Linked DNA regions of Homo sapiens. The protein of the gene in region 4 interacts with the protein of the main gene of each other region in a biochemical or structural test. Each region holds a gene or a part of one and is shown on either strand. Other genes may lie near its edges.

Region 1 (7,026 bases), on a different chromosome or scaffold from region 4:
AACCCCTCAAATCACACCACTGAAGTGGAAATACCTGTCTTGGCTCTCCAGAAAAATAAATAGCTCCACAAAGAGGAAATGTACCCTGTGGCTTCTCAGACGCATGAACAGAATCCCATACATTTATATTTTAAAATATATTCACAAAACAAGTCTATTCATATCTATTAAGGTGGGTCGTATTACTCACTGCATAATAGTTACTGCTATCTTGGGAAAAAGAGTTACCAAAAGCCTGAATGCATTGCTGCCCTACAAATAAAAATGGAAAGAGGGAAAATTGAGAGAGGCATAACCTTCTCCAGATTACTCTAATATAAAGATGCTGGAGTCGCTACCTGTAAAATGTTTTTAGAAGGATACACCTAATTTGTTTAAATCACTGGTATTCAACCCCACCCCTTATCTTTGGCAACATCCGGAGACATTTTTGATTGTCACATCTGAGGGAAGGGGAGATACTACTGACATCTAGTGGATAGACAGAGATGCTGCCAAACATTCTGCAGTGCACAGGATGACCCTCGATAAGAAAGAGTTAGTTATCCAAGCCAAAATGGCAACAGCTCAAAGACTGAGAAACTCCTATCTAGACTGCTTTCTGTAAATGAACATGGGATTTATGGATTTATGGGACATGGGTCTAGAGAAGGGAGAGTAATCACAAACATTTTCCTATATGGGTAGCTAAACAGACTTTGCTTTTTTGTTTTTTGTTTTGTTTTGTTTTGAGACGCTCTGTCGCCTAGGCTGGAGTGCAGTGGCACAACCTCGGCTCACTGCAACCTCCGCCTCCCAGGTTCAAGCAATTCTCTGCCTCAGCCTCCCGAGTAGCTGAGATTACAGATGCCCACCACCACACCCAGTTAATTTTTTTGTATTTTTAGTAGAGATGAGGTTTCACCATCTTGGTCAGGCTGGTCTTCAACTCCTGACCTCGTGATACACCCACCTCGGCCTCCCAAAGTGCTGGGATTACAGGAGTGAGCTACTACACCTGGCCAACTAAACAGACTTTGTAAATGACGTTTCCACATACACTACTCAAAACGTGTCCATTCATCTGAAACACATTTTAATGCAGGAAAAAGAAATATTTTAGGGATCTGTGTCTGACAGTTTGGGATTTCTTCAGAGGAAGGATGCACCATGTCTGGTACTTTCCTGTATACCTTGAAGTCTGGGGTTAAGATGTAGGATTCAGCAAGGACAATTCAGCATTTTATGTTAACCCACTATTACTAATACATTAACTTCCTGAGTTCCAAAGCATTTAAATTCAACCTAAACTTCCCAATCAATGCCAATAAGAGGGGTATAAAGGAGTTTATTTAGCTTTAAATATCATGTCTCAAATTTTGGACAACTTTTTGCTAATAATATTATGTCCTGACTGACAGATCTTAGGCATTATTTCTGGGGTAATTTGATTAAAATTAAATGTATACACACAACAACAACAAAAACTAAACAAAGTAAGGTCAAAATTGTCTTCAAATGCTTTATATTAAATCAATCTAATGCATTTCATAGTTGTCCCAATGACTCTCAGGAATGTTTAAAACTTGAGTATGTCAGCCTACAGTTAATAATAACATACTGTATACTTGTAAATTGCTATGAGAGTAGATTTTAATAGTTCTCACCACATAAATATTTGAGATAATGTATATGTTAAATAGCTAAACTTCTCCATTCCACAACATATACATATATCAAAACATCATGTTGTACACCATAAATATATACAATTTTTACTTGTCAATTAAAAAAATTTGTACAAAGTATATCTTTTTTTAAAAATGATAACCGAGGAGCCAGACAGATCACAGCATCGCAGGTCTTGTAAAGACATTAGCTTTTATTCTGAGAGACATGAGAAACCACACATGTAATCTACAGAATGACATACAGTAACATATGTTGACTGTTTCTTTCCCAAAGTAGTTATAATGCATACACTTTTCATCTTCTGAAGTGTATGAGCATGTTTTAAAAACATCTTTTAGGCCCAAAAATCCATGTGCAGGAAGTCAAGATACAAATGAGAATATTGAAACATGGTTACCATGACTTCACCTTTTCTCAATGAGCACCTAAACATGCTACATGAATTCAATGATTTCCATCATACTCTACTGAAAATCACTGATTGAATTCACGGAACCAAGAAATGTAAATTGTTCAGCATATCAAAAAAAAAAAAAAAAGTATTTGAGTATGTCACCATGTAACACTTTTGACTTTAATTTCAAGGCTTTTAATGAATATTTCTATGAGAATTCAGCATTGTCACACTGAGTCATAAAACCCCTGCTATGGCTACACTGAGGTGTGCTTCCTTTACCTATTCTGTCATTTTATAAAATATGGCTGCTTCACTTAACTCACCTGAAAACTGTCTTATTTGCCTCCCATATCCCTGGCAATTAAGGCAAATACAAAGATATATTTCATAAATATTTCTGCTTCCATGATAATCTCATCCTCATCTTGATCCTAGTCTACATGATTATGTGCAAAACAAATTCCAGATCTGTAATATTATATTCCTTTAAAATATATCATTCCAAATACAAAAATTATAACAAATATATGAAGACAGTAAAATCTATGACAATATAATTATGAAATCTATTTTCTAAATTATAAGGAGAAAATTACATCCTAATTTTTATTCTCAAATTAACAAAAAGAATTACCTAGGAGAAACTCTGGAGCTTGTTCAAATTCCAACTCATCATTATTCAACATAATATTTCTAGGCAGGTCAGCCAAAATCAAGTCAGGGGCAATCTGAGATATTGGAATGGTGAGCCTTGGTTGATCTGGATTTACTAAGAGATCTCCTGAGAAGTAATAAAACATTTTTTAAATAAAAACAACATTTAAGGAGATACATAAATTTGTGGTTTTGATGTGAAAAAATAATGGAATATTTTCTATAATTTCTAATCCCTCCCTTTCTAACCAATCCTATATTTCTCTAGGAAATTTGAGAACATTTTAAAGATTCACTTAGTATCTATCTACTTGGAATTTTAAAAACTTATTCCTACGTTCACTTGTAGAATTCTGAACTGCTGCAGACTACCAGACATCTGACTAGAAAGTTATCTACTCTCTGCTTTTGCCACATTCATGAAGCTGCAGCTGTTATTATATGGCAGACATGTTGGTAAATTAGGTCCATGTATTGTCTATTTGAATCTTTATAACAGTTCTATGAGATAGATGTGGTTGGTATTCCGGTTTCACAGATGAGGTTATGTTGCTCAATAAGCCAGCATTCAAACCCTCAAATCAACATTTTCTGAATCTAGAATACAAGATTTTATTGGTAATAAATATAATTCAGTTTTCTGAACTGTCCCTATAATTGAATATACTATTTTTCAACTCATCCCTTATGGATAAGAATATTTACATTTATTAAAAGTCACTTCATAAGTATTGAAGGATCACTTAAAAGCATTTGTAAGTTGTATCAAAACATACCTTCCTCTGCTTTCTTCATCAAGTCATCAAGTAAGATTTTTTGATGTTCTTCACCATCATTAAAACTATATAATGCCCATTTCTTCAACAGAGTTTCTCCTTCACCACAAATATCAATCTCCAGCAACCCAGGAAACCATTCTTCCATGAGAGAATCAATGTGGTCCACAACTTGGCCCAAAAGAATACAGCCTACATGATTCAAAACAGAGCTCAACACCTTGTCTAAACCTCATACTGTCGCAAAGCTTTAAGGTAAAGTTTTTTTTTTTTTTAAGTTTAAATTTCTTTAGTGTTGCAATTGAAAACATTCAAATTGATTTCCTTACCTTTTCTACAAGAAGGAACTGTAATTTTTAAGAAACTCTCTGGATGATTGTCTAAGACTTCAGATCCTACCAGACAATAAGCTTCAGGAGACCAATTTAAGTAAATGCCTTGTCGCCAATACATTCTGTTTGGGCGAAGTGCTCGTTCTAAAAAATGGAGCCATTAATTATTAACTGCTTCCTAAGTTAAAGGGAAAAAATCTACTGCACACAACACAAGTGATTGTAATACAGATCTATTCATTTTGAAATAAAGTATTGGGTTGTTACTGATATGAGTCCTCATCCATATCTATTAAATATTTTATCCACAACTTTACAATAAAAAGAGTTAAATCCCCTGCACATTAAGATCCATTTCAGGTTGATGCTGTTAAGCAGTTTAATATGCTCGACAGATGAAGAAAGAAAATCATAAATAAATCCTCATAATTTTTAAAAAGAAGTTTTTGATCATGCTAAACGCAAAACTTTCTGAACTTTTTAATGCAATGTAACTACCTATATGTTGATTAATTCCAATCAAGGTAAGGTTTATTTTGGAAACCAGTAACACCTGTGTAAAGCTAATTTTAATCCCCAAAATGATATTTTCCCTTTGGAGTACCAAAATGTCTCTATTTATTTTAGAAGAAAGAGTTAGCATTATAAACACCGGATTTGCTCTTTTTTTGTAAATGTCTTAGTGGCTGTGCAACAGAAAAGAGATAATTACAGTCCCTACAATGTAATCACAGTCAAGATCTGAGTGAGCACCTAAGGAATTTTCTTCCTGACAAATTAGATGAGGTTATATGTGCTTGTGTGTCTTTAGATTGCCTACTCCAAGGTTTTATGAGCTTATTTTCTAATTCTTCAGCTGCCTTCCAAACAAGTAAACTCTGAGAAAATGGCATATTACTTTTCATATGCCATCTCCCTAATTTCTCTAAAAATTAATAAGTCTAAATTAATAGTCTCTAAAAATCTAATAAGTCTTCATTAGATACTTACCTCTCCCTGAAAGCATGTAAGGTGAAATCTCAAGTAATCGATTGATTAATCTTGACCAAAATCCCATTGGAAAATAAGGCATTTCATATAGTCGGATGATAATTTCAGAGTTCTCACAATGGGGAAGCTCTATCACAGGCCTGTGGTCAGACAAACTAAAGGCAAAAGGACACTATGGTTATACAGCCTCACAAAACACCCAACCTTGTTGAGCAAATGATTTTACTGCTTAAAGTCAATGAAGGTAATCATTCCAAACAATTGTAATCTTTTTGTAACATTGTTTCACTACATATTTTTCCTACACCAAAAATTCAGTGGTCAATAACCAATTCAAATGCATGCTCAGATGTAGATGCATGAAATATTTTCGGTAATCCCTGTGCACTAATACATAAATTATTACAATTAGTTATGCATAGACAAATGTAATCTTATATAAATCCTGAAAAATACATGTCCTAGAAAAAAAGTGTATATTTATTTTTAAAATTGGCTGCATCCATCAATCAATGTAATTTGCACATTTCAACATCATATTACTTTATAAATTTCCCAGTTGCTTAGAGCAGTAGGAAAAATTTCCATAGTATAGGCTAAAACATAGGCATCCATTGTGATGCCATAAATGCTTTTAAAATTCTGTTGAAAACTCACTATCTTCTCAGAACTTGCTTAATAAACTCTCTCAGTGTTGTTTAAGAACACACACATACACAAACACAGACACACACACACATTAATCTCCACTATTTACCTTTCTTAAATAATTTCAACAGTGATAAGCCAACTAGTAACTATACACATAAAGTAAGTGATTTACTATATTGTTAAAGTGTCAGATGCAATGTTTTATTCCAAAATAAATGATACATGTCAGTAGGAGGTTTACACTAGAAGCAAAATATATTTATTTATTTAATACATCTATTATAGACTACAGTTAGTTTGACAATTAAAAGAATAGATAGTGAATTTCCATGTAGCAATTAATTTTTTAAGGTTTTCTTTACCTGCTTGGAACCAGCAAATATTCTTCTCCTATTGGCAAAGCAATCTGGAATTTTTCTAGGAGCTTAAAATACTGTGACATGTAGTTCTTTGGAAATTTCCTTTTTTTTGAAAGAAATTTTTCCACATCTCTACGCGAAATAATGCCCTTAGGGTGTTTTGGACAACCTTCCACTTTCACTGTCAAAATCTGAAAGATTCGAGTCATAAATAATCACTAAAATTTATTTTCTGAAATGTTGCAAATTTAAAGCATTTTATGTCTCTTTGCTCAGTGAAAGTAGTCAGAAAGATTTTAGTGTTTTCAAGTGCAACACAGTACCTAATTTCTCTAGCAACCATGTGGCCTAGAAGCCCAGAGGGGCATTCACTCTCAAAAAAAAAAAAAAAATTGTTAAATTAAGGGAGTTAATTCGGATAGGAAATCATTGAACTTCACTGAAACAATGAACATCAGTATTTCCCTAGCTACAATGGAAAGATCAATCCAATACCTCACATCTGTTTTGCAGTCTCATCAATAATATATTCCCAGGAAAATTATCTTCCAGACAGTTATCAATACAGGTTTGAAATAGAAATATTACTTCACATTTATATACTAGGAGAGGACTTCCATGAATAGGAAGACAGACTGTGTAGCAGAGTTTCATGATTCTCAAAGTAACTACTGCATTTTGATGGATTCTACTTGCAGTGTCTGGGTCAGTAGGTCTGGGTTGAGGCCTGAGAATCGGCTTTTTTAAAGAGCAACCCCGATGTTTCTAACACAGAGATCACACTTTGAGCTTTGATCCTTGTCATGGCAGTTAAAAATCAGTCAGAACCCAGATTCAAATCCAGGCTCTACTACTAGCTCTGTAACCTTGGGAAAGGTATTTGATTTCTTTACTGCACAGCTTTCTTCTCTATAAAATGAGATAATAAAAGTGACTGTCTTAGATTGCCCTGAGAATGAAATAACACATGTAAAGTACGCAAAGTACATATGACAAATTTTAGCATATTTATCTATATATTCCAATTTATTTTGCTTTGTCAAATTCACTTTAAAAAGAGGTTTGTATTTAATTTTCTTTGGGAGATCTATAATGTTTAAGGAATACTTAAACAGAAGCAAACATTATTTATGCTATCATGTAGTTGAGTGAAATACCAGGTTATAAAGTCCTTAGGCCCAAGGACTTGTCTTACC
Region 2 (7,026 bases), on a different chromosome or scaffold from region 4:
AGAGGGCAAGACTCTGTCTCAAAAACAGATAAACAAAAAGAGAATAACAACAAAAAAACTTAAGAAAAGTCAAAATTGGATTGAATGTGAAGGAGGGCAGTGTCAAGGATGACCAGCTTCCTACTTGTACAATCAAATGGAGGATAATTACCTCTTAAATCTTTATTTGCCTAGCATTTTAAGATTTTCATTTTCAGACTTTTTGTTATTTATAAAGCAGAGATATTGAGTTATTTAAGAAAAAACTTCTCACAAACTGTTTATAGCATATATTAAAGGGAAATCTTTTTTCCACTTGCACATTTTTTCTGGCTAAATGAATGATTTGCCTCTTAGATTCTAGATAAGACAGTTCTGTGATTTTTAAAGTGTAAGTTTCCACCTTCAGCACAGTTTATTTTAGAATTACCTAGAGTGGAGATGGCTTGTCTTTCTGCCTGCTAATCTAGAGACAGGTAAAGATAAGTGAGATTAAGCAGGCAGTTGCTGATGAGTTGTACCTCATATTGTCCAGGAAGACACCAAGGTGTTATGGACATGATTCGCCCATATAGCTCAGTAAGTGCAGCAACTTACTGCACTAGAAACTTTCCCATAAGTGAAATTATGCAAATATGTTCTTTGACTTTGTAAAATAATAGATTACTTCCAGCAAAACAAGAGGACTCTCAGGGGAGGTGGTAGGACACTAAACAGGAAGTGGGATTATGGGTGGAGCTGTTCACTGAGGAGGGCTGGAGAACAACGTGGAGAGAGATGTCCACAGGAGAATGGCATTCCTATTTGCTTTCCTCTGGTACCAGATAATTTTGCTTTAAGACAACTGATATGTTAGAGAGGGAATTGGGTTGGAAATGTAGCATTTTCCCGAAACATACAGTAGTCCTTTAAAATAAAAACTTCCTGATCCTTTTAAACTACCCTTCAATATTTTATTATTCTAAATGGAAATAACTTTGTTGTTTTCACCTTTCCCAACGTCTTTAATGTTACAAGGAAAACTGTCTCCTTTTAACATTTGCATATATTCAAATTAATAACTATGTTAGTTTCTCAAGGCCACTGTAAAAATTACCACAAACTTCGTGGCCTAAAACAATTAACATGTGCTGTCTCATTGTTTGGCGGTTAGAATTCCAAAGGCACTATCACTAGGCTGAAATCAAGGTGTCGGCAGCGCTGTCCTTCCTCTGGAGGCTCTAAGAAAGAAATCGTCTTTCCCTCTTTCAGTTCCTGGTGGCTGCCGACATTCTTGGGCTGCATCACTCCAATCTCTCTGTCTCCGTGGTTATGCTGCTTTCTGTTCTGTTCGCATCAAACCTCCCTCTGCCTCTCTCTTATAAGGACACTTGTGATTTCATTTAGCACCTACCTAGATAATCCAGGATAATCTCTCTCTCTCTCAAGACCTTTAACTTAATCACACCTGCAAAAGGTAACATTTCCAGGTTCCAGGAATTAGGATATATTTAGGGGCCATCATTCAGTTTACTATAATAACTATTTTTTATATCCACTCAAGAAGAGTCTCAGATGTCCATGAATGAAATAAAGCAATAAATATCAGATTAACCCTACTGTTTGCAAAGTCCTTTAAATGAAAATGTCATTATACTTTACATTATACTTTATACTTACATTATAAGTATACATTCTACATTATACATTATACTTTACATTATACTTTATACCTTACATTATACTTTGCTCACAGAACATTTATATAATTTTATCTTGTTTCAGGAAGTACATAAGGCAGTTTATATGGATACTTGAAATGCAACAAGATAATGTAAATTAAAAATAGATGAAAGAAAATAAATGAGGATAAGAAGAGAAAAGGAAGCAAGGGATGAAGCTCTAGAAAAATGAATATAATCACATTACTTTTATTGATATTGCATGGAAGATAAATTCTTACTTTATAAAGGAAGTATGGCATTTTGTTATAAAATGATAAAAGAACCATTCTTCCTTCTGTCAAACAGCAGCAGGTCCAGTCTCTTATACAGGCATACCTTGGAGATAGTGTGGGTTCAGTTCCAGATCACCCCAAAGAAGTGAATATTGGAATACAGCGAGTCACACACGTTTTTTGGTTTTCTAGTGCATATAAAAGTTATGTTTATACTATACTGTAGTTTGTTAAATGTGCAATAGCATGCTATCTAAGAAAAGGTACATACCTTTATGTAAAAGATACTTTTTGCTAAAAATTGCTAACGATCATTTGTGCCTTCACTGAGTGGTAAGTGTTTTACTGGTGGAGGGTCTTGCCTGGATGTCGATGGCTGCTGACTGATCCGAATGGTGGTTGCCGAAGGCTGAGGTGGCTGTGGCAATTTATTAAAGTAAGACAACGAGGAAGTTTGTCACATAGATTGACTATTCCTTTCAAGAAGATTTATATATAGCCTGTAATGCTGTTTGGTAGCATTTTGTCTGCGATAGAACTTCTTTCAATATTGGAATCAATCCTCTCAAGCCCTGCCACTGCTTTATCGACTAAATTTATATAATTCTAAATCCTTTGTTGTCATTTACACAGTGCTGTGAACATCTTCACTGGGAGTAGATTCCATCTCAAGAAACCACTCTTTGCTCATCCATAAGAAGCAACACCTCATTCATTCAAGTTTTAGCATGAGATTAAAATGTCATAAATTTAGTTACATCTTCAGGCTCCACTTCTGCTTCTTTTGCTGTTTCTACCACATCTGCACTTCATTTCCTCCACTGACATCTTGGACACCTCAAACTCATTCAGGAGGGTTGGAGTCCACATCTTCCAAACTCCTGTTAATGTTGATATTTTGACCACCTCCCATGAATTACGAATGTTCTTAATGACATCTAGAATGGTGAATCCTTTCCAGAATGTTTTCAATTTATTTTGCCTAGTTCCAACAAAAAAATCACTATCTATGGCAGCTGTTTTCTTATGAGATGTATTTCTTAAATAATACGACTTGAAAGTCAAAATTACTCCCTGATCCACAAGCTGAAGAGTGGATGTTGTGTTAGTAGACGTGTGAGCAATGTTAATCTCTTTGTACATCTCCATCAGAACTCTTGGGTGACCACGTATGATATTGTTTGGCTGTGTCCCCACCCAAATCTCATCTTGAATTGTAGCTCCCATAATTCCCACATGTCATGGGAGGGAGCCATTGGGAGGTAATTGAATCATAGGTGCCGGTCTTTCCCATGCTGTTCTCATGATAGCAAGTCTCACGAGACATGATGGTTTTATAAAGGGGAGTTCCCCTGAGTATGTCCTCTTGCCTGCCACCATGTGAGATGTGCCTTCCATCATGATTGTGAGGCCTCCCCAGCCATGCGGAACTGTGAGTCCATTAAACCTCTTTTTCTTTACAAATTTCCTAGTCTCGGGTATGTCTTTATTAGCAGCATAAGAATGGACTAATACAGGTGTGTTATCAACCAGAAGTAATATTCAGAAAGAAATATTTTTTTTCTGAGCAGTAGTTCTTAATAGTGGACTTAAAATATTCAAGAAACCATATTGTAAACAGTTACCCAGGCTTTGTTATTCTATTTATAGAGCACATTTTCTAAATCTATAGATTTAGAATAATTATTTATTTATTTGTATTTGCATTTTCATAGATGAAAGGTCTTGCTCGGTTGCCTAGGCTGAAGTACAGTGGGATCATCATAGCTCACTGACACCTTGAACTCCTGGGCTCAAGCAATCCTCCTGCCTTGGCCTCACAAAGTGTTGGGATTACAGTCATGAGCCACTGCATCTGGTTACAGTTAGAATAATTCATAAGGGCCTTAGAACTTTTTGAATAGTAAGTGAGCATGTAACTTAAAGTCACCAGCTACATTAGCCCCTAACAAGAGAGTCAGCCTGTACTTTGAAGTTTTGAAGCCAAGCATCGACTCCTCCTCTCTAGCTATAAAAGTCCTAGCTGACATCTTCTTCCAGTGTAAGGCTGTTTCATCTATATGAAAATGTGTTGTTTAGTTTAGCCACTTTCATCAACTATCTTAGCCAGATCTTCTGGAGAGCTTGCTGCAGCTTTGGCAACAGCCCTTGCTGCTTCACCTTGCACTTTTATGTTACAGAGATGACTTTTTTTTTTTTTTTTTTTGAGATGGAGTCTTGCTCTGTCACCCAGGCTGGAGTGCAGTGGCACGATCTTGGCTCACTGCAACCTTCACCTCCTGGGTTCAAGCAAATTCTCCTGCCTCCGCTTCCTGAATAGCAGGGATTACAGGTGCGTGCCACCACGCCCTGCTAATTTTTGTGTTTTTAGTAGAGATGGGGTTTCACCATGTTGTCCAGGCTGGTCTGGAACTCCTGACCTAAGGTGATCCACCTGCCTCAGCCTCCCAAAGTGCTGGGATTACAGGCATGAGCCACCATGCCAGGCCTGAGATGACTTCTTTCCTTAAACCTCATGAACAAATCTCTGCTAGCTTCCAACTTTTGTTGCACAGCTTTCTCATTTCTCTCAGCCTTCATAAATTGAAGAGACTTAGGACCTTCTCTGGATTAGATTTTCACTTAAAGAAATGTTGTGGCTGGTTTGATCTATCCAGACCACTCAAACTTTCTCCCTATCAGCAATTAGTCTATTTCACTTTCTTATCATTTGTGTGTTCAGTGGAATAGCATGCTACGTTTCTTTCAAGAACTTTTCCTTCACATTCACAACTTGAATCAAGAGGCCTGCTTTTGATCTATCTTGGCTTTCACTGTGCCTTCCTTGCTAAGTTTAATCATTTCTAGCTTTTGACTTAAGGTGAGAGATTTGTGTCTCTATGTTTCACTTGAATACTTAGAGACTATTATAGGGTTAATTGGCATACTATCAATATTGTTGTGTCTCAGAGAGTGGAGAGGGCCAGGGACAGGGAGAGAGATAGGGAAATGGGTGGCTGGTGGAGCAGTCAGAACACACACAGGATTTACTGGTTAAGGTCACCATCTTATATGGGCATAGTTCATGGTTCTCCAAAACAATTCTGATGGTAACATCAAAGATCACCAATCACAGATCACCATAACCGATTTAATAATAATGGAAAAGTTTGAAATATTGTGAGAGTTACTAAAATGTGACACAGAGACATGACATGAGCCCATGTTGGAAAAATGGCACCAATAGACTTGCACAACCTGGGGTTGCCACAAACCTTCAATTTGTAAAAATAATATCTGTGAGGTACAATAAAGTGAAGTGCAGTGAGGTATGTCTCTAACTATTAAATTATCCAAGGAAAAAATTATTTTGCATTTTATGTTTCATATTTAAAATTTTGTATTGAAGTTTAGGCAATATAATAATAAACCTCAAACTATGGAAGCAAGCTGTTATATATTTTGATTTATGATTTTTAAGAGTATTATTAAGACTATTCATACAATTTTCAAAGTTACCTCCTGTAGTTTTGTTTCCTGTTTAAGTAAAGGTTTTGAAATAGGTGATGATGCATATTTTAGGTGAAGTCAGTCATTTGCAACAAATCATATACCACTGTTTTATTTTAAATTATTTTAAAATCTAATTATACAAATGGCAGCTGTTGTAGTAGATGGGAACATATTTTGAATTGCCTTCCCTGTTATACACCTTATTAATTATCTGGGTAGGCAGAATCTGAGAATTTCTTCAAAAACTTATAAGCAAAGGAGTCCATTTTTGTGGCCTATAAGAAGATGTGCTACTTAGTAATTTATAGTAAATAATAAACAAATACTTCAGCAGATATTGATTCATTAAATATTTTAATAAATACTTATTGATTACTGCAGTAATAGCAAATATTTGACAAGCACATACTATTGGGAGGGAAAAGGGCATAGTGATTAAGATCCCAGGATGAAGGTAAACTGCCTGGATTTTAATTCTGACATGTTACTTACCATTAATATGACCATGAACAAGTTATTCATTTCACTCAATCTTGGTTTCTACATATGCAAAGTGAAGATAGTAATAGCTCCAATATCATAGGATTGTTATGGGGATTTAACATGTTAATACAAGCAAAGTGCTTAAAGCAGGGCCTAGCACATGGTAAGTAGTATATAAATGTTTGCTGTTGCTTTTATTAGCATATGCTGAAAACTTTGCATCCATTATTTTATCAAAACCTTATAATAACATCATGAGGTAGATACCTTTACTTTTAACTCATTTTATAAACAGGGAACTACGAGTCAGAAAAATTAAATGAAGAAGACAGGATTCAACTCCAAGTTTAATTGAGTCCAGAGAATGAGCTTAACTACTATACTGCACTGTGCCTTAATGTGTGCTGTGCCACACGTGCAAAGGGGAAGCTAAGATGAACTTGACATGGTGTCATCTTTTCAGGAGGATAGGCAAAAAAGAGTTGAGAGTCGTTCCTGTGGGTTAACACCTAGAACTAATGAGAGGACATATTTCCATCCCAATGGGATTTTTTGAGTGCTAATGTGCTAATTAGAGCTAATTCACATTGAGGGTGATAATAGCAATAACATTTTAGTGTTTTTACAAATGTCAAATACCATGGCATGCACTTTTTTAAAAAGCATGTTATTTAGTCAGGTGCAGTGGCTCCTGGTACTTTGGGAGGCCAAGACGGGAGGATCACTTGAGCCCAGGAGTTCAAGACCAGCCCAGACAACATAGCAAAACCCTGCTTCTACAAAAAATAAAGAAGTAAATTGGGCATGGTGATGCATGCATGTATTCCCAGCTACTTGGGAGGCTGAGGTGGGAGGATTGCTTGAGCCCAGGAGTTTGAGGTTGCAGTGAGCTATGATTGCATCATTGCACTCTAGCCTGGGCTGGACAAAGTGACACCCTGTCTAAAAAAAAAAAAAAAGAACAAAAACAAAAAACTCCAAACATGTTATTTAATAAGTACAACAGGCCGGGCGTGGTGGCTTATACCTGTAATCTCAGCATTTTGGGAGCCTGAGGTGGGCGGATCACCTGAGGTCAGGAGCTCAAGACCAGCCTGATCAACATCGTGAAACCCCCTCTCTACTAAAAATACAAA
Region 3 (7,433 bases), on a different chromosome or scaffold from region 4:
TCGTGTCCCTCACGTTCCCCCACTGCATACCCAGGCACACAGGCTCTCGCAGCCCCAGATGCCAAGGCGCACACCTTTGCACCCGCAAGCACACATACTGTTCACACAACCGGGTACACATGACGGCTAGCCCAGGCCCGCCGCCCACGCAGTCGCAGGCCAGGGTACACACGGCCAGCGCCGCCCTTGGCCACGCCCGCTCAGGCCCAGGCAATCGCGCCAGGCGCACACACGGCGCGAGCACACGTGCCGCGGGTACACGATCCCCAGCTCGCCCGCGCACTCGGCCAGCTCTCACACCCCCGCGTTTCCCGTCCCCGCTTGTTTTTCTGGAAACTCTGCTCTCCCCTCCCCTCCCCCTAGGCCGGAAGTGTTGGCTGTATTTTTAGCCTCTCTGGTTTCCGCCCCTTTCCTTCTTTCCCCGCCCGCCCAGGACTGGCCCCAGCGCCCCGCGGGGGGACCCCGGCCATCCCCTTCCCCACCGTCATTCCAGAGGGGATTCCCGGCCGCCGCTGGGGCCGCGGATTTTCCCGCTGGCTACGTAGGGAGCAGGGAGGAGTCCTGCCATGAACTTCCTTCTGGCCTGGGACGCCCGAGATCTGAGGGGAGGGCTGAGGGCCTGGTCTCCTGGATCTGATCGAGGACAGGCTGGGGGTCTCCCGGGTCTGAGGGAGGAGGAGTTAGGGGCCTGAACCGCTGGATCTGAGGGAGGAGGAGATGGGGGCCTGGACCCCTGGGTCTGAGGGAGGAGGGGCTGGGGTCTCGGGGGACCTGAGGATCTGAGGGAGGAGGGGCTGGAGGCCTGGACCCCTGGGTCTGAGGGAGGGGGGGTTGGGAGTCTCCCGGGTCTGAAGGAGGAGGAGTTAGGGGCCTGGACCCCTGGATCTGAGGGAGGAGGAGCTGGGGGCCTGGACCCCTGGTTCCGAGGGAGGAGGGGCTGGGGGCCTGGACCCCTGGATCCGAGGGAGGGGGGTGCTGGGGGCCTGGAGTCCTGGGTCTGAGGGAGGAGGGGCTGGGGACCCAGGGCCCTGGGTTACTGCGAGGGAGGAGGGACTGAGGCCTTGGCTCCTGGGTCCCCCAGGTCTGTGGGTTTGGGGAGGTGGAGGACCAGTCCTTCTGCGAGCAAAGCATCCCCCTCCTTTGAGAGTGGCCCTATCCCAAAAGTCCTGACTCTTGGGGCCGATGACTCAGCAGATGGGAGAGAGGAGGGGGACAGCCTGACTCAGGGATGGGAAATGCTCCCGGTCTCCAGGGAGTAGAAACTGGAATCCCTCCTCCAGGATTGATCGCAGCCCGAGCTGAGCCGGGCTCCGCGAACCCAAGGATGCCCCCAACCCCCCTTTCCCCGCCTCAATCCTTTAAGCTGCGTAAGGATTTGGAGATCGGCCTAGAGGCGGGTCCCAGGTCCCCCTCCTCCCCCCTTTTTCCCCGTTGTCCTCAAGGCTCTGTTTACAGGAGACGGGAGCCCTGGTTACAGGAGAGGAACCCGAGTGTCCGGGCTGAACCTCCTCGTCACGGCTTCCAGGAAGCCCCCACTCCCCCGCCCCTTGCGAGTGAGTCACGGGCGAGCAGGAGGCCACAACCGTGCCAGAGCCGCCCGCGGCCCGCCCAGCTCACGAGACCGGCCCGGGAAGGCCCCTCAGCAAGCGCCGCACCAGGGATTCCCCCCCGCCGCTCTCGGACGAAGCAGGTCGACGTGGAGCCTGGCAGAATCTCCCCACCTTAATACAAGCCCGCAGCCTGCAAGAATGAACTTTCCACCATTATAACTGCGCACTGTGGCAATGATTTCTACCCCCACATTTTCACTCAGGGCATCCAGCTCTCCAGCACCCCTTAGAAAATAGTCTTCCTAGATCTTAAGAGGGTTTTCACTTAGGGCGACCCTTTGATAACAAAAGATGTGCCAGTGTGGGGAATGATCCTTGAAAATGTAGTCTGGGCGGGGTGCGGTGGCTCACACCTGTAATCCCAGCACTTTAAGAGGCCGAGGCAGGTGGATCACCTGAGGTCAGGAGTTCGTGACCAGCCTGACTAACATGGTGAAACCCCCGTCTCTACTAAAAATACAAAAATTAGCTGGGCGTGGTGGCCGGCGCCTGTAATCCCAGCTACTCGGGAGGCTGAGGCAGGAGAATCACGTGAACCCGGGAGGCAGAGGCTGCAGTGAGCTGAGACCGCGCCATTGCACTCCAGCCTGGGCAACAAAAACGAAACTCCATCTCAAAAAAGAAAAAAAAAAGGAGGCCCGGCCGGCTTGGTGGCTCACACCTGTAATCCCACCACTTTGGGAGGCCGAGGCGGGTTGATCACGGAGGTCAGGAGATCGAGACCACCCTGGCTAACACGGTGAAACCCCGTCTCTACTAAAAATACAAAAAATTAGCCAGGCGTGGTGGTGGGTGCCTGTAGTCCCAGCTGCTCGGGAGGCTGAGGCAGGAGAATGCGTGAACCCGGGAGGTGGAGCTTGCAGTGAGCCGACATCGCGCCATTGCACTCCAGCCTGGGTGAAAGAGCGCGACTCCGTCTCAAAAAAAAAAAAGGAAAATGTAGTCTGAAGGCACACCCCACTATAAGAGACCCATCCAGCCATCAACTGAGGATGACCTTTTTTTTTTTTTTTGAAAGCTTTTTTCAATCAATGCAACCATCAGTTATAGTGAAAGACCTCCACCTTGCCAATCTTGAGTTTTCTCAGAGGGCAAACCTCGACATAATTTCAGACCCTAGTATGAGGCCTGTGCCATTTGCTAGCTCGAACTAGGAGAGTAACTTTATTTTTCCCCCTGAGAGGGAGTCTCGCTCTGTGGCCCAGGCTGGAGTGCAGTCGCCTGATCTCGGCTCATTGCAACCTCTGCCTCCTGGGTTCAAGCGACTCTCCCACCCCAGCCTGCTCCCTCCCCGCCCCCGAGTAGCGGGACCACAGGGTGTGCGCCACCACACTCAGCTAATTTTTGCATTTTTGTAGAAATGGGGATTCGCCGTGTTGCCCAGGCTAGTCTCAGACTCCGAGCTCTAGTGATCCGCCTGCCTTGGGCGCCCAAAGTGCTAGGACTACAGGTGTGAGCCGGGCAGGAGAGTAACTTCACTTTGGTTTCCTCCTGCCTTAAATGGGCATACCACCTGGCATTAGGATTAATGTGCGTAAAGTACTTAGAACTCAGCCCAGGTGAGTTCTCCTTAACTCAGCCTAGAAGAGATCATCCGCCCGAGGGTGAGGGGGCTAGAGCCGCCCTGTGAATTGGGAAAGGAGGCCCCTTTTCAGCCTTGCCAGGTATCCTGGACCCCACCCAACCCACTCACTCACCCACCCAACCCCAGCAAGTGGGGAGAGGGAGAGCAGTCCAGGTCTCCTTATCTGTCTGGGCTGTTTAGGAGTGAGACCACACAAGGCAGGCAGTTCTCAGAGAATTCCCCTCCAAGGCCTGCTGGCTCTTTCTTGGCACTTTGCTCTGCAGATTTCTTTCCGTAAGTGCTTATTTCTCACAGTCTTTCTCCTTTTTGTCCAGTTTCTTTTTCTTTTTAATTTTTTTAAATAGTATTTTTTGTAGACATGGGATCTCACTGTTGCCCAGGCTGATCTTGAACTCCTGATCTCAGGTAATCCACCTGCCTCATCCTCTGAAAGTACTGGGATTGGCCGGGCTTGGTGGCTCACACCTGTAATTCCAGCTCTTTGGGAGGCGGAGGTGGGAGGATCGCTTGAGCCCCGGAGCTGGAGATTAGCCTGGGCAACATAGGGAAACCCCGTCTTTCAAAAAAAAAAAAAAAGAAGAAGAAAAAGGAAAGAAAAACACAAAAAGTGCTGGGATCACAGGTGTGAGCCACTGCGCTCAGCCCCTTTCTGTTTCTTTTTGTGATCCTCCCAACCCTCTTCTCCCTCTGAATCTGTCTCTGGGACTGTCTCTGTCTCCCCGTCTTCCCTCCCTTCCTCACCCTGTCTATCTCTCTCTGTATGTCTCTTGGTGTGTGTGTCTCTCTCGATGTTTTTCTCTCTGCCTGTCTGCCTGTCTGTACCCCTCTGCGTCTCTCCCCGCCCCCATCCGTCTGTGTCGCACGCGCACCCCCATCGGGCTTCTGCTCTTGTCAATTGCCCCTGGGGCCCTGCCCCCACCTCCGCCCCAGTTTCCTTCTACAAGCCTCAGTCTCCAGCTTTGAAAACTGGGCAGGCGTCCCCCCATCCGCACCCCCACCCCTTCCCCACGCATTCCCCGCTCGGTCACGGCTGTCCACCGGCCAAGCTCAGGCGCGTCCTGGCCCAGGGCCGGGCGGAAGGGAACCAGTCCAGGGCCAGCCAGGCTGCGCCGGGGGCGCGCGTCCGGGAAGCGCCCCTCCTGCCCCGCCCCCGGCCCCGGCCCCGGCCCCGCCCCGTGCTTGCAGTTTCCTATAAGTAGCCGGCTCTCGGTGCCAGCCTCAGCCTGACTTCAGCGCTCCCACTCTCGGCCGACACCCCTCATGGCCAACCGTTACACCATGGATCTGACTGCCATCTACGAGGTGAGTCCCCGCCGCACGGCATCCCCGGTACCTGCATGCCTGAGTCCGAGTCCCCACCTCTCTAGCGCCGCAAACTCCAGCCCGGGACGCTTGCCTCCCTTCTCCAACTGGGGCTCCCTAGCGCCGCGCCCTCCAGCCTGGGGCCCCTGCCTCCCGCTCAGACCAGCTTGGTGATTTGGAGGTGAAAATGGAACCCGCGACACCCGGCTCTTCGCTCAAACATGGGTGGGGCGGCCCATGCAAGTGGAAAGTCGGAGAACTTTTCTCAGACCGAGGCTGCCTGGAGGCGGAAGTGGCCCCCATACCTGGCTCACCCCTAGTCGTTGCTGAGGGCGTGGTTTTGCGCGGAGGCGTCTCTGGGGCTGAAGTCTCAGGGTGGGGGGATCCGACTTCTGTCTCTCCAGTCCCTGACCGTAGAGACAGAGAACCCTAAAACCGAAGCAATCCGGACTTCCAGGTCAACTTTGCCCGGTTTCTCCAGTTGTGAAACTGGAGATCCCGACGCGTGGGTCATATCCGGGGAGGACAAGAGACCCAAAATTGGGAAACAGTGGTGCGCCCTGACTTCGGGGTCCCCCTCTTGGTCCAGCCGGGGAAGCCGGGATTCCTGGGTCCCTCGGGATAAGGCCTCGGTGGTGGGTAAACTCAGAACCTCCAACTCTGGGTTCCTGGCATCCGGAACCCAGGGGTTTCTGCGGGCGGGTGGGGCTCAGGCGGGGAGCCCACAAACCGGCCTGGCAAGCTCTAGTTCCCTGCAGCTGGGGTGGGGCGTCGCCCTGCATTTTCAGGTGCCTTAACCGACCCATTTCCGCAGAGCCTCCTGTCGCTGAGCCCTGACGTGCCCGTGCCATCCGACCATGGAGGGACTGAGTCCAGCCCAGGCTGGGGCTCCTCGGGACCCTGGAGCCTGAGCCCCTCCGACTCCAGCCCGTCTGGGGTCACCTCCCGCCTGCCTGGCCGCTCCACCAGCCTAGTGGAGGGCCGCAGCTGTGGCTGGGTGCCCCCACCCCCTGGCTTCGCACCGCTGGCTCCCCGCCTGGGCCCTGAGCTGTCACCCTCACCCACTTCGCCCACTGCAACCTCCACCACCCCCTCGCGCTACAAGACTGAGCTATGTCGGACCTTCTCAGAGAGTGGGCGCTGCCGCTACGGGGCCAAGTGCCAGTTTGCCCATGGCCTGGGCGAGCTGCGCCAGGCCAATCGCCACCCCAAATACAAGACGGAACTCTGTCACAAGTTCTACCTCCAGGGCCGCTGCCCCTACGGCTCTCGCTGCCACTTCATCCACAACCCTAGCGAAGACCTGGCGGCCCCGGGCCACCCTCCTGTGCTTCGCCAGAGCATCAGCTTCTCCGGCCTGCCCTCTGGCCGCCGGACCTCACCACCACCACCAGGCCTGGCCGGCCCTTCCCTGTCCTCCAGCTCCTTCTCGCCCTCCAGCTCCCCACCACCACCTGGGGACCTTCCACTGTCACCCTCTGCCTTCTCTGCTGCCCCTGGCACCCCCCTGGCTCGAAGAGACCCCACCCCAGTCTGTTGCCCCTCCTGCCGAAGGGCCACTCCTATCAGCGTCTGGGGGCCCTTGGGTGGCCTGGTTCGGACCCCCTCTGTACAGTCCCTGGGATCCGACCCTGATGAATATGCCAGCAGCGGCAGCAGCCTGGGGGGCTCTGACTCTCCCGTCTTCGAGGCGGGAGTTTTTGCACCACCCCAGCCCGTGGCAGCCCCCCGGCGACTCCCCATCTTCAATCGCATCTCTGTTTCTGAGTGACAAAGTGACTGCCCGGTCAGATCAGCTGGATCTCAGCGGGGAGCCACGTCTCTTGCACTGTGGTCTCTGCATGGACCCCAGGGCTGTGGGGACTTGGGGGACAGTAATCAAGTAATCCCCTTTTCCAGAATGCATTAACCCACTCCCCTGACCTCACGCTGGGGCAGGTCCCCAAGTGTGCAAGCTCAGTATTCATGATGGTGGGGGATGGAGTGTCTTCCGAGGTTCTTGGGGGAAAAAAAATTGTAGCATATTTAAGGGAGGCAATGAACCCTCTCCCCCACCTCTTCCCTGCCCAAATCTGTCTCCTAGAATCTTATGTGCTGTGAATAATAGGCCTTCACTGCCCCTCCAGTTTTTATAGACCTGAGGTTCCAGTGTCTCCTGGTAACTGGAACCTCTCCTGAGGGGGAATCCTGGTGCTCAAATTACCCTCCAAAAGCAAGTAGCCAAAGCCGTTGCCAAACCCCACCCATAAATCAATGGGCCCTTTATTTATGACGACTTTATTTATTCTAATATGATTTTATAGTATTTATATATATTGGGTCGTCTGCTTCCCTTGTATTTTTCTTCCTTTTTTTGTAATATTGAAAACGACGATATAATTATTATAAGTAGACTATAATATATTTAGTAATATATATTATTACCTTAAAAGTCTATTTTTGTGTTTTGGGCATTTTTAAATAAACAATCTGAGTGTAAGCTGGGATCCTGGCTTCTTCGCGGTCTAGAGACAGGAATGGAGAGGGAGGGGGTGACTTTTTGGAAGCTGGGTGCAGTTAACTCTTCCTCTCCGAGCCCCGCGGCGCTTACCTGGCAGGAAGTGACGTCACCGGGCCTGGCCGTTCACCTGAAAGGGTGGGACCAGGTGAGGTCACCAGATGGGAACCGGGGGAGCCAGTTCCCGGGCGTCGGGGGCGCCGCGCTCCCGTCCTGCTGGGCTCCTTGACCCAGCTTCGGGCGGGTGCGGTCGGGGACGGGATGTTTCCGTCCCCACGGGGCCGCGGGAGGCGGGAGGGGCCGGGTGGGGAGGACGGAATGTGCTGGGGCGCGCGCCCAGAGCGAGCGGGGGCGGGCGCGGGGCGGGGCAGCCTGGGGTAGCGGAACCCGTTTCGGGACTAGAGGTTCCGGGGGGGCTTCGACACCTTCTGGATGTTGG
Region 4 (7,026 bases):
CAAAGCTGGAGCATCGCTTGAGACCAGGAGTTCAAGACCAGCCTGGGCAACATAGTAAGACCTTGTCTCTACAAAAAATAAAATATTAGCCAGGTGTGGTGGCTCATGCCTGTGGTCCCAGCTACTTGGGAGGCTGAGATGGGAGAATCGCTTGAGGCTAGGAGGCCAGGGATGCACTGAGCCATGACTGCATCACTGCACTCCAGCCTGGGTGACAGACACCCTGTCTCAAAACAAACAAAAAATTACTCTTCCTAAATTACCTCTAGTCTTGCCTTTGTCCTTACTCAGTAACTTCCAATGACTCCCTTTTGGCTACTCCATCAAATTTAAGCTCTACCTGGCTTTCAAATTCCTGATAAATTGTCTCCTCTTTACTTGTTTGGCTTTCTCATCCACTGTTCTCCAACATGTACCTTTCTCTCAGGCTGGCCAGCACCACATGCCCTATAAACACAATGCTCAAACGTGTCTGAAACTGCTTTTGTAGTTCCCTTCATCTAGAGTGCTCTCCTATTTACTGCCTGCCTATCTGAACTCCACCCATTCTTCTAGGGCTACAAACCCTTCCCTGACTGCCCTAGCCCTCACTGATTTACCTTGCCTATGACTCTGAATATACTTATAGCCTATTACATGGTCTAGGACTTCTTTATGCCATTCTGTGATACAGATGAGTACTGTACCACTTACAGCTTCACGTGTGTGCCCTCAAAGGAAAGCTTCATGTTTGTTTCACATTTAATGCTTATAACTGTGCTAAGCACAAAACTCATATGCAAATGAATATCAAGTTTTTCTACAAATCATTATTGGGAGAGCACAAGGAACACAGAGTACCTATATGTAGTATAGTCGGAAGGCAGCAGGACTGTGTGTCACAGCGCAATGTGCCACTATACAGCCATGTGAGCATGTTAAATCTCAGCCTTCCAATCCATAAAATGAAGATGGCATCTACCTCAGTAGAGTTGCTGTGAAGATGAGGCGCAGGGAATTAAAGAATACTAAATGTGGAAATCTTCCTTGAAAAATGCATAGTGCAAAATCAAACTGAAGTACTATTATTCTTCTCCACGACTATTACACTGTAGCAGCCCATAAAACCATAAGCTTGAATTTTCTTTTTAAATATACAATTTTGTGAGAAGGAAAAGCAAAAGTCTAGATTAATCTTGTACAGATAGTTAGTATGTTATGTTAAAATGGACATATATGTTAAATGTAACTGAAGTTTATCCATTAGTTTCTAATTGAATTTTCTAGTGATATGCCATGATGGTTTTTAATCAAGACCTACTGTTGTTCCAAGACTTTGAATGAGGTTCCCACTAAAAAAAAAGTCAGCAAGATACTCTTTATTTGTCTCCTAAAAAGTTTTTGAAAGACTATAGTCTCATCGTCAGGCCTGGCACCACTGCAGAAGCATCAAGATACTGGCGCAGGCAAACTCATTAGAGGCCACAAAAGGCCCAACCCTGCAGTAAGCCAAGAGATTTTCCTTGTGCTGGGCATATTTCAGGAAGAGACTGACGTGCTTGAGAACAGGAGCTCTCCAGCACACCTATATGATGATGATGGCTGTCAATCTGTTCTAAGCCACTGGATGCAGCAAGTCAGGACTGGGAAGCATTTGTTGATAAACGCAGAGATTGCTTAGTGAAAAAATGGAAGCAAATCTAAATATCCAACAATATGGGAATGGTTTAAAAAATAAGGAGACTGGCCAGGTGCACTGGCTTACGTGTGTAATCCCAGCACTTTGGGAGGCCAAGGCAGGCAGATCACCTGAAGTCAGGAGTTCGAGACCAGCGTGGCCAATGTGGTGAAACCCCGTTTCTACTAAAAATACAAAAAAATTAGCCGGGGTGGTGTATGACTGTAATCCCAGCTACTCGGGAGGCTGAGGCAGGATAATCACTTGAACCCAGGAGGTGGAGGTTGCAGTGAGCCGAAACTGCGCCACTACACTCCAGCCTGGGCGACAAGAGCGAAACTCCGTCTCAAAAAAAAAAAAAAAAAAAAAGGCAGGGGAGGGAAGGAGATAGATGGTACAAGATTACGTGGCCATCAAAAGAAGAGATTTAATGTCATGAAAAGATTTATTTAAGAGCAATGGGGGCTGGAGGGACGAGGCTGCACAATATTTTATTTCTGTAAAATATCCCCTAAAGAACAAACAAACCCGAACAGAAAGGTTACACCAAATGGTTAACACTGGTTCTGTCTCTGGGTAATAACATTATTATATCCTCATTTTCCTATCTTTTTAAATTTTCTTCAAGTATGTATTACTTTTTTAAAAATTGGGTACTATTTCTTTTTTTAAGAAAAAAAGTGTTTTTCTGTTTAAAGAGAAACCACTAGTGCAGATAAACAGCTATGAAAAATAATTCTAAAGGTACTCACAAAATAGGATTTTCTTCAAAGAAACAAAATCCTAAATCAGATAATAAATGCTGAAAATAGAGGATCTAGGAAACAGCCTAGCCCCTCTATCCCAATTCCTTCCCCAAGGGACATCTTTCTAGTCAGGGTCAAAATACTGAGAAGTTATTTCCCAGTGGCTAGAGCAGATATCCTAGGAGAAGAATCAAAAAAGAAAGAAAGAAAAGAAAAAGAAGACTACCTACTGCTAATCCATTTTTTTTTAAATAAAGGCAGTGCAAAGACAGAAAGGGTTGAAAATGACAGCTGTGGCCTTTAGAAGCACTGGCTTTCAGCTATGTTTTGTTTTCAAGGCAAAGAACATGCTCGATTCGAAAATAATAAGCTTTGAATTTAATAATTTGTTAGAAATTTCAGATGAAGACTCCATTATTATATGTCAGGAATTACCCAAGCTCTATACATATAAAATATACGGTGGGGTCTGCTTTTAGCAAGCCTTACATACACATCTGAGCTTCTAAAGAGAAAGTAGGTGATTTTTCTACATTTCCACATTATAACTTACCTGAATCTGTTTTCTCAGTGTTAAAAAGAGACATTAATAGCTATCAAATAAGATAATGAACATAAAATGCCCATATAGTGCTGGTTAGAGTAAAGGCTCATAAGCCATTCTTATTTTTTATTCTTAAGCTACCTCACAAAAATGTAACACATATAATCCAATGTGTGTTGAAATAACTAACAAAATGAAAAACTACCAAATTTCTAAGAACTCTTTGGATTATTCATTGAGAGGAATTTAAAAGAAAGCAGTGTAGTCCTCCCCTCAGAGAGCTTAAACTCTAGTGGTAGAAACACAAGAAAAGAGCACATGTATATCTATTACACATCAATTAAAAAAAAAAACAGCACACGTTTAAGGGTTACAATGCCTCTCCTTAGAAAGCCAACCAGACAGAACTAGAGGAAATAGGTTTAAAGGTAGCTAGGTCGTGACTTAAAAAGAGATGTTATTAATAAAGTGCATGTATGTTTTTCTAGATGAGATAAAAATCAAAGGCCAAAGCAGATAAAGAAATGAGAATAAGGAAGAAAACTGACAAGAAAATCTGAAAAATCTAGGCTCGAATGTTTCAATGGGGTAAGGAACTGATCACATATTCTGAACAGCATTCACAGATGTACCATTCCAGATAGAGCATCCACAGCACTGTACAGCAGAAGTTTTAGTTCTGGAGTCTCTCTGCTGAAGAAAAATCAGATGCCAAGCTACTGCAGAAGGGACTGAGAAAGTCAGTGGGACCAGGTGGTTAGTGGGTGTTACCCAGAAAAAGTTAAACACTCCTGGCTCTCAGAGAAAACTACTCACTAAAAAACACCCACTATAAAACTGTCTGTGTGCCATTCTACATATAAAATTTAGAGTCCTGTAATAAATTTAATTCCATTCAAACATTTGCAGGTTCTTTGTTAGGAAACAAAACACAGCATATCTGTAATACAAAGTCATTAGCACTAAGTCCAGTGAACACTGAATTTGGAGAGAAACTGCATTTCTATTATTTCAAAATCCCTTCCCTCTTTCACATCAGCTGTTGCATATCATTGCTAATTATGTCCAATTAGCCATGATTAAACTTACTGAGGGTGTTAAGTGACAGGCGCAAGGTTACACATGTGACTTAATGGTAGATATGACAATAAATTGACTTCTTGGCTTAAGTAATCAATCCAAAAGACACTATGTTAATTCTGATCCATAAAGACAGCCCAATTGGTTGACCTTATGAATAATTTCTACAGTTTGGGGCCCACTGACATAATGAAGCCTATCAGTCTGATTTACCAGTACCGCACACCAAGTCCACAGGCTATGTGACCTCTGTGAATTTGTTTTCTCATCCATAATACAGGCAAATCTGGGCTGGGCGTGGTGGCTCACGCCTGTAATCCCAGCACTCTGGGAGGCCGAGGAGGGTGATCACTTGAGGTCAGGAGTTCAAGACCAGCCTGGCCAACATGGTGAAACCCCGTCTCTACTAAATATATAAAAAAATTAGCCGGGTATAGTGGCAGGCGCCTGTAATCCCAGCTAATTGGGAGGCTGAGGCAGCCTGAAGGCAGAGGCTGCAGTGAGCTGAGATCACGCCACTGCACTCCAGCCTAGGCGACAGAGCAAGACTCTGTGAAGAAAAAAAAAAACATAGGCAAATCTACTTACTAGGGTTCCTGTAAGGAGTAAACCTGTTTATGATATAAAACAGTAAGCACTCAAATAAATGGCAACCACAGTACATTCCACACAAAACTTAAAAAACCAATGGTCAGCCAGTGAAGGGAAACTTACTATGTACCTCATTTATTTTACACGTACTCTGCTTTCTTTAAAGACTTTTAAAAGAAAGGCACATAACAATTTCCCTATGCTTATTTCTAAAATGGCCCTTATCACAGTTTACTGCAATGCAAGTGTCTCTGCTGGCTCCCACACCGGATTGTGAGCTTAAAGTAGGAATCCAGCCAGGCGTGGTGGCTCACGCCTGTAATCCCAGCACTTTGGGAGGCCGAGGCAGGTGGATCGCAAGGTCAGGAGTTCAAGACCAGCCTGGCCAAGATGGCGAAACCCTGTCTCTACTAAAAATACAAAAATTAGCTGGGCGCAGTGGCAGGCGCCTGTAATCCCAGCTACTCAGGAGGCTGAGGCAGGAGAATTGCTTGAACCCGGGCTTCAGAGGTTGCAGTGAGCCAAGATCGTGCCACTGCACTCCAGCCTGGGTGACAGAGTGAGACTCCATCTCACAAAAAAAAAAAAAAAAAAAAAAAAAAGTAGGAATCCAGACTTGTATCTTTGGACACCCAATGTGGAGTACAAGGCCTAGCACACTGAGTGACTGCTTGATCAACTGATGCATTCTTAAAAAGTGAAAAAGCAATTATTTCCTACGTGGACAGAGGAAGGTAGCACACATCTGACCTATAAAATACAGACTGTTTTTATTGTCTTAGACTACTTTTTGAAAAAAGCCAGCCAGCTCTCATCAGGAGCAACACTATACATTTTGACTAATATTTTTCAGCTACCAATCATTGTATTTATAGATTCAAACTGACTTTCAACAAGCCTTTGGATTACTTTCTGTCCATCTCCTCCATTCAGAAGTCCAATCAGTTCGCTATACAAAAAGTTCACTATACAGAAACCCAAACCAGCTAACTCGTTTAGTAAATAACAAAAATATCCATCCATCATTTATGGCCTGCAAAGCACTCAGGGATTCCTAGAAACGCATTTGATCCTAAGTATCCTATGAGGCAGGTGACATTGTCCCGTTTTATAAATGCAAAGAGTTAACTCATTCAGGGTCACACAGCTATATATGGCAGATCTGGGATCTAAACCAACATTAATTTTAAAATTAATGCTCTTTCCTTTATGTAACCCTATCTCCTAAAGATCAATTATGAACTCCAATGCTCACTTAAGGAAAAGAGAGAATTGTCAACTTTTAAAAGAACTATACAAGGTTGTTACAGTGAAATTTTAAAACTGGCCTATTAAGCTAATGTTATCTAGCTTTAAAAATAAAAACAAAATCAAGGAGTTAAAAACAGCATAAAAACATGCCAAAGACTTACCAAAATGTCAAACAAATTTTAAAGGAAAGCTCTTAGCTGAGGGCAAATAATAATAATAGACAGGACTCATATCTACTTTATTGTAGCCTTCAATCTTCTTGTCCTGGTCAAGGCCATTCAGAAATAACCTCCTGTTGGTTCTTTTAGGGAAAACAATAAAATAAACTAACCAGTACGGGAAAAACTTACATAATAAAGAACTGGCCAGAATTTAAAAAAAAAAAAAAAGTTAACTAACCTACAATCTGCTAGGAATGACTTGAGGCCACTGATCATTTACATCTCATTACAAGTATCAGATACATATAACCACACCTCTATTAGAAAATCTTTTAGTTGAGAAAGCAGTAAGATGATTGGCCTTCAGCACACATATCATGAGACAGAAAGCACTTTTAGTCTGTTTCCTCAAGTATTCCCCTTAGAAAAATTCCCTCAGAATCCAGCTCCAACCGTTAGTTTCTCCATCATGCAATACAGATGACTGCTAAGATCATATTCACATAGAGATCAAAAGGATTCTAAAGCTTAAAGGTTGCTATTATGTAACCATAATTTCTTGCCCCTTAACTAGTGAATTGTCATCTTTCCCTAGAAAAATGTAGAAACAAGGAACTTAAAAGTATCTCTACAAGGAAATTTTAGTTCATTCTCTAAGGTACCAGCATTTAAAGGAAAACTCAGTTTGTTGACACCGAAAGAGCAGGTAGCACAACAGGATGTTTTAATTTAGAAGTTTCTCTCTATTTACGTAGATATATTTCCTCATTTCCTCCCTGCCAACAAAATGAGAAAAATCTGAACATCTACTGATGAAGTCGTAAGATAAACAAAAATTAATGGTCACAATCAAATTCTATTAGATGAAGAACCTAAAATTCTATGCCAAAGTAACTGATGACTTTCTCCCTAGTATGAAGCAAGTACTAGAAAAACTGGATTGTTCACAAGCTTGCTTCCTGATGCATGCTAGCAATTATCATCCCTACAGGCCAG

Evidence for each region.
Region 1: the proteins of YWHAB (region 4) and LRRK2 interact on a protein array, tested with the Homo sapiens proteins (2 studies listed by BioGRID and IntAct, with this or other methods).
Region 2: the proteins of YWHAB (region 4) and TPD52L1 form a complex in vitro, tested with the Homo sapiens proteins (one study listed by IntAct).
Region 3: the proteins of YWHAB (region 4) and ZFP36 form a complex in vitro, tested with the Homo sapiens proteins (2 studies listed by BioGRID).

Annotation. Positions count from the first base shown.
Region 1 is NC_000012.12:40,318,983-40,326,008, reverse strand, and holds part of LRRK2 (leucine-rich repeat serine/threonine-protein kinase 2), read right to left. Parts: exon of another isoform or gene 6,034-7,026; intron 6,022-6,033; coding exon 5,834-6,021; intron 4,976-5,833; coding exon 4,821-4,975; intron 3,975-4,820; coding exon 3,828-3,974; intron 3,691-3,827; coding exon 3,499-3,690; intron 2,850-3,498; coding exon 2,703-2,849; intron 1-2,702. UniProt on the Homo sapiens protein: Serine/threonine-protein kinase which phosphorylates a broad range of proteins involved in multiple processes such as neuronal plasticity, innate immunity, autophagy, and vesicle trafficking.
Region 2 is NC_000006.12:125,156,749-125,163,774, forward strand, and holds part of TPD52L1 (tumor protein D53), read left to right. Parts: intron 1-7,026.
Region 3 is NC_000019.10:39,402,432-39,409,864, forward strand, and holds ZFP36 (mRNA decay activator protein ZFP36), read left to right. Parts: upstream 1-4,415; 5' UTR 4,416-4,473; coding exon 4,474-4,497; intron 4,498-5,311; coding exon 5,312-6,268; 3' UTR 6,269-6,976; downstream 6,977-7,433. UniProt on the Homo sapiens protein: Zinc-finger RNA-binding protein that destabilizes several cytoplasmic AU-rich element (ARE)-containing mRNA transcripts by promoting their poly(A) tail removal or deadenylation, and hence provide a mechanism for attenuating protein synthesis.
Region 4 is NC_000020.11:44,888,695-44,895,720, reverse strand, and holds part of YWHAB (14-3-3 protein beta/alpha), read right to left. Parts: intron 1-7,026. UniProt on the Homo sapiens protein: Adapter protein implicated in the regulation of a large spectrum of both general and specialized signaling pathways. Binds to a large number of partners, usually by recognition of a phosphoserine or phosphothreonine motif.